Homo sapiens: one gene and its partner. The protein of the gene in region 2 purifies or fractionates together with the protein of the main gene of each other region. This does not show direct contact. Each region holds a gene or a part of one and is shown on either strand. Other genes may lie near its edges.

Region 1 (3,500 bases), on a different chromosome or scaffold from region 2:
TGCACCATCATACGCAGTGTGTGTGCCACATTGAACAGGTGAGACATCTAAGAAAGAGCCCAAGTTAGCTAGAAAGGTCCTAGCCCCAGCTTTCCAAATCCTCAAAGCTCTGGGTGGTCCCATCCTCCCTGCCCCAGGCACCTGATCCTTGGTGAACTGCTGGACGGACAGGATATGTTGGCCCACTAATGAGTGCAGCAGGGGTGAGGTCTGGGGGTGCAGCAAGCCAGGGGTCCCCAGGTTCTGGGGAGATGCCTGTCTCGGTACTGGTGGTGGAGGGTAGCAGGTGCCATCAGGGGTTCCCATCAGCTCTGCAGTGAGGGATGGGGCAGAAAAGGCTGGTCAGAGGGTTCCTCCTACCAAGGCCAGATCAGAGGTCCCCGAGGTGAGTGTGTGTCAGGGTGGAGTCTCACCTGGCTCGGCTACCTTCCGAGAGGACTTCTCCTTTGGCTCCTCAGCTGCAAACAGGACAAGAGGACAGATATACATTTATGGCTGAGGTTTGGAAAGAAACCCCATATTCCCAGGAACTCTGAATCACAGTGTATATGTTAAACCAATTCACAACACAGTAATATAGCAGGTTAGGGGAGGGCAGGGGACTGCAGCAGCTCTGGGGACAGACAGGTGGCTTCCCATGGGGCTGTGTTGTATGGGAGCAGTGGTGCCCTCCCGGGGCTCTCCCAGTTGGCAAAGGCATCCTAGGCAAGAGGAACGGCCAGACTCACACCAACCAACAACCTGGATTTACCCCACGCTCTGCTGCCCCGTGGGATCCCAGCTCCTGGGCGGAGGAACACAGCTGCCCACAACAAAAAAGGGCATGTGAGAAGCTGTGAGATGTCTACTCACACCGGGGAGACTTGTTTAGGCAAAGGATGGCACGGCAGATCAGACGAGGATAAAGGGATGGAGAGGAGGACATGTAAGTAGAGAAAGGCGAGGCACTGGGAAGAAGTGGATCCTGTCCCTACACAGTCTCTGAGTCACAGGAACCCCACTCTTACCTGGCAAACCTGGGTCGGAGGCTCGATGGATTCGGGGCGGCAGATGGAAGCGGCCATCAGGAAGCCCTGGGATGCCACGGCGGGGTCTTTCAGGTGTCTGGAGGGATAACGTTGGCCCAGAGTTGTTTTTTTTTTTTTCTTTTGAGACGGAGTCTCGTTCTGTCGCTCAGGCTGGAGTGCAGTGGCGTGACCTTCTGGGTTCAAGCAATTCTCCTGCCTCAGCCTCCCAAGTAGCTGGGATTACAGATGTGCACCACCACGCCTGGCTAATTTTTTTATTTTTAGTAGAGATGGGGTTTCACCATGTTGGCTAGGCTGGTCTTAAACTCCTGACCTCAGATGATCCGCCTGCCTTGGCCTCCCAAAGTGCTGGGATTACAAGTGTGAGCCACCACATCTGGCCTGGCCCAGCATTTTAAAAAAATAATTGACCCAACCCCACTTCAAATTCAGTCCCTCAAGAAAACCCCAATTGTTCCTGAACCACCAATGAAAATGTTCAAGCTGTTCATCCTGCCCTGAGACTAACACCTCCCAGCCCCCTAGCCCAGTAGTGTGGATACCGTGGTCATCTCACTAGTGGCAGGGGCTGAGGGTGGGAGCTGAGGAACAGCCCCCTGTGGCCACTTCCGTACATCCTGTCCATAGCCCGGGGGTACCAGAACCTGCAGGCAGAAGGCAGGGCACTCAGGAGGGAGCAGAGAGAACTCAGGTCCTAAAGGGGTAGATGTCAGCAAGGACAAAAAGCACCTTGGGGGAGCTGTGCCCCCAACCCCTGGTCCAGGGCAGTGGTGCACATAGTGGGACAGTGTAGATGTGCTGGGAAGGGAAGAAATGAACGTGGTGCAGAAGAGGGCACTACTGAGATCAGGCAGGGGCTACTTGCGTACCTGCCCATCGATATAGGCAACCTCCCCTCGCAGGACCACACGGCGGACGGTGCCCTTCACTTTCTGCCCTTCAAAAGGTGTCCAGTGGGCCTTGGAGAAGGGCATGTGGCTGGGAATTGTCCACTCATGCTCCAGATCCACCTGCCCAGAGGACATGGGTTATGCTAGGGAAAGGATCCCCAGAGAACATATCCTAGGGCTGGAGAGCCCCCCTCCTGCTCTGGGCCTCATCCCCACACCTCCACATAGGTGTCCTCCTGCGGGGGCAGGTGAAAGATGCGCCGAGGATTGTGGTGCAATCGCTGCAGCAGGTCGTCCAGGCTGAGCCGGCCCTCGCTTACAGCCGTCAGGAGTAGTGGCAGCATGGTCTCTAACCCTGGGAACCCAGGTGGGGGCCTGGACCCACACTTCTCCTCCAAGGTATGGGGAGCTGGGAGAAAGAAAGCCATTACCCTCAGGACCAATCACCTCCATGTCTAGGAAGTCACTCACACCCCAGGACTGCACTTCCAACAACCTCCTTATGCTCACTACCACTCCCAATGCTCATTTTTTCTGGGAACTAGAAACAAGGGCAACAGGACTGCTGCCATCTTCTGGAGCCCACACTTTTACCCATGTATTCTTTCACTTGCAGTTCTACTCACTGGCTCATTCATTCTTTCAACAAGTATTTATCAGGCACCTATCACAGACCAGGTACCCTAGAGGCTAGGGTCCCATACGGATCAAGACCCTGTCCTAGTAGAGTCCTGAGGCCTGGCCTGCTTCCCATTTTCTTGCTAGGGCTGTCCCACAAGCCCCACTGGGCAGAGGAGGTACATGCTGGATTCTCTCACCATGGTCTGAGGCAAAGCAGTCGATGACAGCCATGTTCTCCCACAGGGCTTCCACATCCTGGCGGGAGCCAAGCTCAGGCCGGACCTCCCCCTTCCCAGGCCCCAGGCGCTCCAGGTCATCATGGCTTAGGAACAGGTGGTGGGGAGCCACCTCGCAGGTCACTGGCAAGCCCCGTGCCTTTGCAGCTTTAATTAGCAGGATCTGGGGAACAATGGGAAGATCCAGAAGAGGCACCACCCATATGCCTTGCCCTACACAAAGTCCCAATGGCCAACATCCCTGCTCAAAAAATGATGATGTAGACCTGCAAGGGTGCTGGCTCGAGACCCTCCTCCTGCTGTCTCCAGACTCTCCTCCTGCTGTCTCCTGCCCCTAAGGACTACCCTGACCTTTGGTGTTACTGGGAAAGCAACAGGGACAGCAGGATCTCAGGTGTACTCTTACCTCCTCCTTCCGTGCCACGTGACATATGTGCACTGAGCGCTGAGTGAGCTGAGCCACCATGAGGACAGCAGCCACGGTTTGCTGCTCTGCGTGAGCCACAATGGGGAGGTGGGAGGGCCATGTCTCGAAATGCTGGGAGCAGAAAGAACTGATGAAGGAGTGTGCAGAATCTCTGACTGTGCTCATCAGAGCCCAGAGTCCCCAGGAGCTCCCCTGAATCCTCACTGCTACCAGCCCACTTAGGCAGGGGCCCACAAGCCAGGAGACACTGGGTGGTGGCCTCCTGCCACATGCACACTCCCTACCTCCATCCACTGGA
Region 2 (3,500 bases):
CAGCCTTGGCGACAGAATGAGACACTGTTTCAAAAAAAAAAAAAAGAAGAAGAAGAAGAAGAAGAACAAAGAAAGAAAGAAAGGGAGTTAATGAGCAGTGGGGGCCTCAGCAAAGGCACTGGCATTCAGCCAGGTGGAGGGTCTCGGTGAGAGGACTGAGGGTGAGGGATGGAAGCCCGCCCGGTCTGAGGGATAGGGCCTAGTGAGAGATGCGGCACAGTGGGATGGGAGTCACCTGCAGACCTCAGCCTTGCTCCCTGACCCTCCAGCCCTGGCCTGCCCCCGGCCAGCCCAGAGCCTGGAGGAGAAGCCGGAACTCTTGCAGGATGGTGGTTTCCTGCCCCTGCCCAAAGTCCCGGTTCCCTTTTGATGAAATCCCCCAGGCGGCTGGGCCAGCTCAGCCCTCTCACCTCACCCTGGGAACTTCTCTTTCTTCTCAGCCCTGCCCAGTTCTGTACCCTCTGGTCCCACACCGTCACTGCCACGGAGGACCTTCCTCAAGGGAAAGGAGGGAAGTGAAAGTTCACTGGGCACTTACTGTATGTCTGATGCTTTCAGTGATGTGACCCCATTTGATGCTGAGAAGCAACCCCAGGAGGTGGACATTTGTATTCTTATTTTATAGGCAAAGATGCTGCCGCTCAGGGAGATGAACTGACTTGCCCAATGCCTTAAGCTAGTTGTCAGGCAGGCTAGAATTTGAGCCTAAATCTGCCTCTAGATCCCACAGATACTTGGTGAGGGTTGCGGGGGCAGGACATCCTGTGTCTACATCAAAGAACTGGCATAGCTTTGGGAAGTGTGGGCCTCGAAAAAGGATGGGTGGACCTGGGGTTCCTATGTCCAGCAGTAGGGGTGAGTGGGAGGCAGGGTCCCTCCCTGCTGGGTGACCAGCTGCCATATGACAGGGGTGGTGTGTTCGACCGGAAGTATGACATTCACTAGTTAGGAACAGCATGATCTCCTGCTCAGGCTTTGGAGAACACAGCAGTGGGGGAGGGAACAGAACTCTGGACTTGAATTAATAGTCCTGACTTTGAATCCCTTGTCTGGCTGTGTGATCCTGGGAAAGTAACTTCCCCCTATGCAAAAGAGAAGGTGGAGTGGTAAATGGTCCCTGGGGGCCATTCTGGTTTTGGTTATTGGTCACACTTGGCCACTGCACATCGGGCAAGAGCCACATGTCATGAAGCCCTCACAACAACTACTCAGAAGGTGCAGATGCAACAACTAAGGCTCAGAGGCTTATGTCAAAGATCCAAGGTCATAGAGCTACTGAAGAATGGAGCTGGGGAGGGCCACAGGGCAGATGTTGAAGTGAGGAGCACTGCGGTCCAGGGTTGGACCTCAGTTTGATACTTGTAACCTGATTTTGACCCTGATGGGGATCTCGGAGGCGACTCCTGTAAACCAGATGTTCAAGAGACATATTTATAAACAGAACCAAGTGCCCAGAATGATGCTGTGGCTACTCTCTGAGCTGCCCCCTTTCTGGTATTAGCAGGCAGCGAAGTTCAGTGCTGAGAAAAGAGAGACCTGGCTTCTTCAGATTCAGCGACTGCCTGAGAAAATCTGGGCAGATATGGCTCTCTCTCTCTCTCTCCTGCGCCCCTCCCTCCCCCCACCTGCGCCCTGCCTGCTGTATCAAGGATTTAGAGCATGAGGCACAGGGCTGAGAACACTAGGTGCTCCTTAAGAGACACACGTTATTGCAGGGGTGTCCAATCTTTTGGCTTCCCTGGGCCGCATTGGAAGAAGAAAAATTGTCTTGAGCCACACATAAAATACACTAACACTAATGATAGCTGATGAGCTTTAAAAAATTGCAAAAAAGGCCGGGTGCAGTGGCTCATGCCTGTAATCCCAGCACTTTGGGAGGCCGAGGCGGGCAGATCACGAGGTCAGGAGATCGAGACCATCCGGGCTAACACGGTGAAACCCCGTCTCTACTCAAAATACAAAAAATTAGCCAGGCGTGTTGGCAGCGCGCCTGTAGTCCCAGCTACTCAGGAGGCTGAGGCAGAAGAATCACTTGAACCCAGGAGGCGGAGGTTGCAGTGAGCCAAGATTGTGCCACTTTACTCCAGCCTGGGCAACAGAGTGAGACCCCGTCTCAAAAAAAATCACAAAAAAAATCTCATAATGTTTTCAGAAAGTTTACTAATATGTGTTGGGCCACATTCAAAGCTGTCCTGGGCTGCATATGGCCCATGGACCATGGGATGGACAAGCTTGCATTATTGCTTCTACTAGGATTACAGAATGGACTAGTGGTTACAGTGGTTTTTGGCAACAAGTTGATCAGCATTGCATTTTAGCATCCTTTACTCACAATGTAATCTTGGGCAAGTTACTTAACATCTCTGTGCCTCAGTTTCTTCATCTGTAAAATAAGGGTAGTCATAAACCCACCTCATAGGTTCACCAAATAAGACCATGACTGGGAGTTACTTGGCAAGATGCTAGTCACTGTGTAACTGTTTAATAAATTAGCTCATTTTTACTGCCACCTGGATTTCTAGGAAGTCAAATTACTCTCCAAAGAATTGGTGGCACATAGAGATCAGAGCAAGAGGAGGATGAAGAGTCCTAGGGCTATTTTCATGCAGATGTCTGAGCAGAGTGAACCCAATCTGCTCTCCCTCCGTCTTTTTCCCTCCTTGTCTCTTTAGCTCTCTCTCTCTCTTTCTCTTCATCTCTGCCTCTCTCTGTTTCTATCTCTTTCTGTCTCTTGATTACTCTTTCTCCTTAATTCTCATTTCTGCCTCTGTCTCTTTGTCTCTGTTTCTTTCTGGCAGTGTGTGCTGGAGCCAGCTACTTACTGGCTCAGGGGAGTTCATTCTGTGTGTCTCTTCCACCCCAGCTTTCAGGAAGTCACTTTGGTAGCTTTAAATCAGCCATTGTGGGAATATTTACACCATGGAAATCAGAAAATGTGACAAATCAGGGCTTTTTCTTTTCTTTTCTTTTCTTTTTTTGAGAGTCAGTTTACCAGCATACCACGCTGTGTTTCTCTGTCTCTGTCTCTTCCTTCTATCTCTCTGTCTTTCTGTCTCTCTGGCTCTTTCTCTTTATCTCCCTGTATCTCTCAAACTCTGCCTCTCTCTCTCTTTCTTTCTGCCTCTCCTTTTTCTGTCTTTCCCCATCTCTTTCTTTCCTCTGACAAAACAGCATGAACATGGCTACATGCAGTGTGGCCCCTCCCTGCCTTGGGCCATGCAGATGTCATACCCTGTGCCCTACATCCCCTGACGCCTCAGCATACTGGTCCCCAGAGAGCCAGGCCTGGCCAGGGCTTTGGTCTGCATCAAGTTTGGAAGTGATAAGACCCAAGAGCTGCCTACCTCTGCCTGCTGACGACACGGTCAGTCCTGCCAGGGCTCTTCCTGAGCCCACAGAGCTTCCTTCTCAGATGCTGATAGTCTCTCCCTTCCAGCCATACTGGGCATGCAGAATTCAGGGATCCCCTCCATCTGATATAGATATGTTGTGGCAATATA

The links.
Region 1: the proteins of FGR (region 2) and CAD purify together in Homo sapiens (affinity purification with mass spectrometry; one large-scale study listed by BioGRID and IntAct). This does not show direct contact.

What each region holds. Positions count from the first base shown.
Region 1 is NC_000002.12:27,237,869-27,241,368, reverse strand, and holds part of CAD (multifunctional protein CAD), read right to left. Parts: coding exon 3,487-3,500; intron 3,314-3,486; coding exon 3,182-3,313; intron 2,939-3,181; coding exon 2,737-2,938; intron 2,328-2,736; coding exon 2,137-2,327; intron 2,039-2,136; coding exon 1,898-2,038; intron 1,673-1,897; coding exon 1,571-1,672; intron 1,105-1,570; coding exon 1,008-1,104; intron 803-1,007; coding exon of another isoform or gene 752-802; intron 459-751; coding exon 414-458; intron 312-413; coding exon 142-311; intron 48-141; coding exon 1-47. UniProt on the Homo sapiens protein: Multifunctional protein that encodes the first 3 enzymatic activities of the de novo pyrimidine pathway: carbamoylphosphate synthetase (CPSase; EC 6.3.5.5), aspartate transcarbamylase (ATCase; EC 2.1.3.2) and dihydroorotase (DHOase; EC 3.5.2.3).
Region 2 is NC_000001.11:27,628,686-27,632,185, reverse strand, and holds part of FGR (tyrosine-protein kinase Fgr), read left to right. Parts: intron 1-3,500. UniProt on the Homo sapiens protein: Non-receptor tyrosine-protein kinase that transmits signals from cell surface receptors devoid of kinase activity and contributes to the regulation of immune responses, including neutrophil, monocyte, macrophage and mast cell functions, cytoskeleton remodeling in response to extracellular stimuli, phagocytosis, cell adhesion and migration.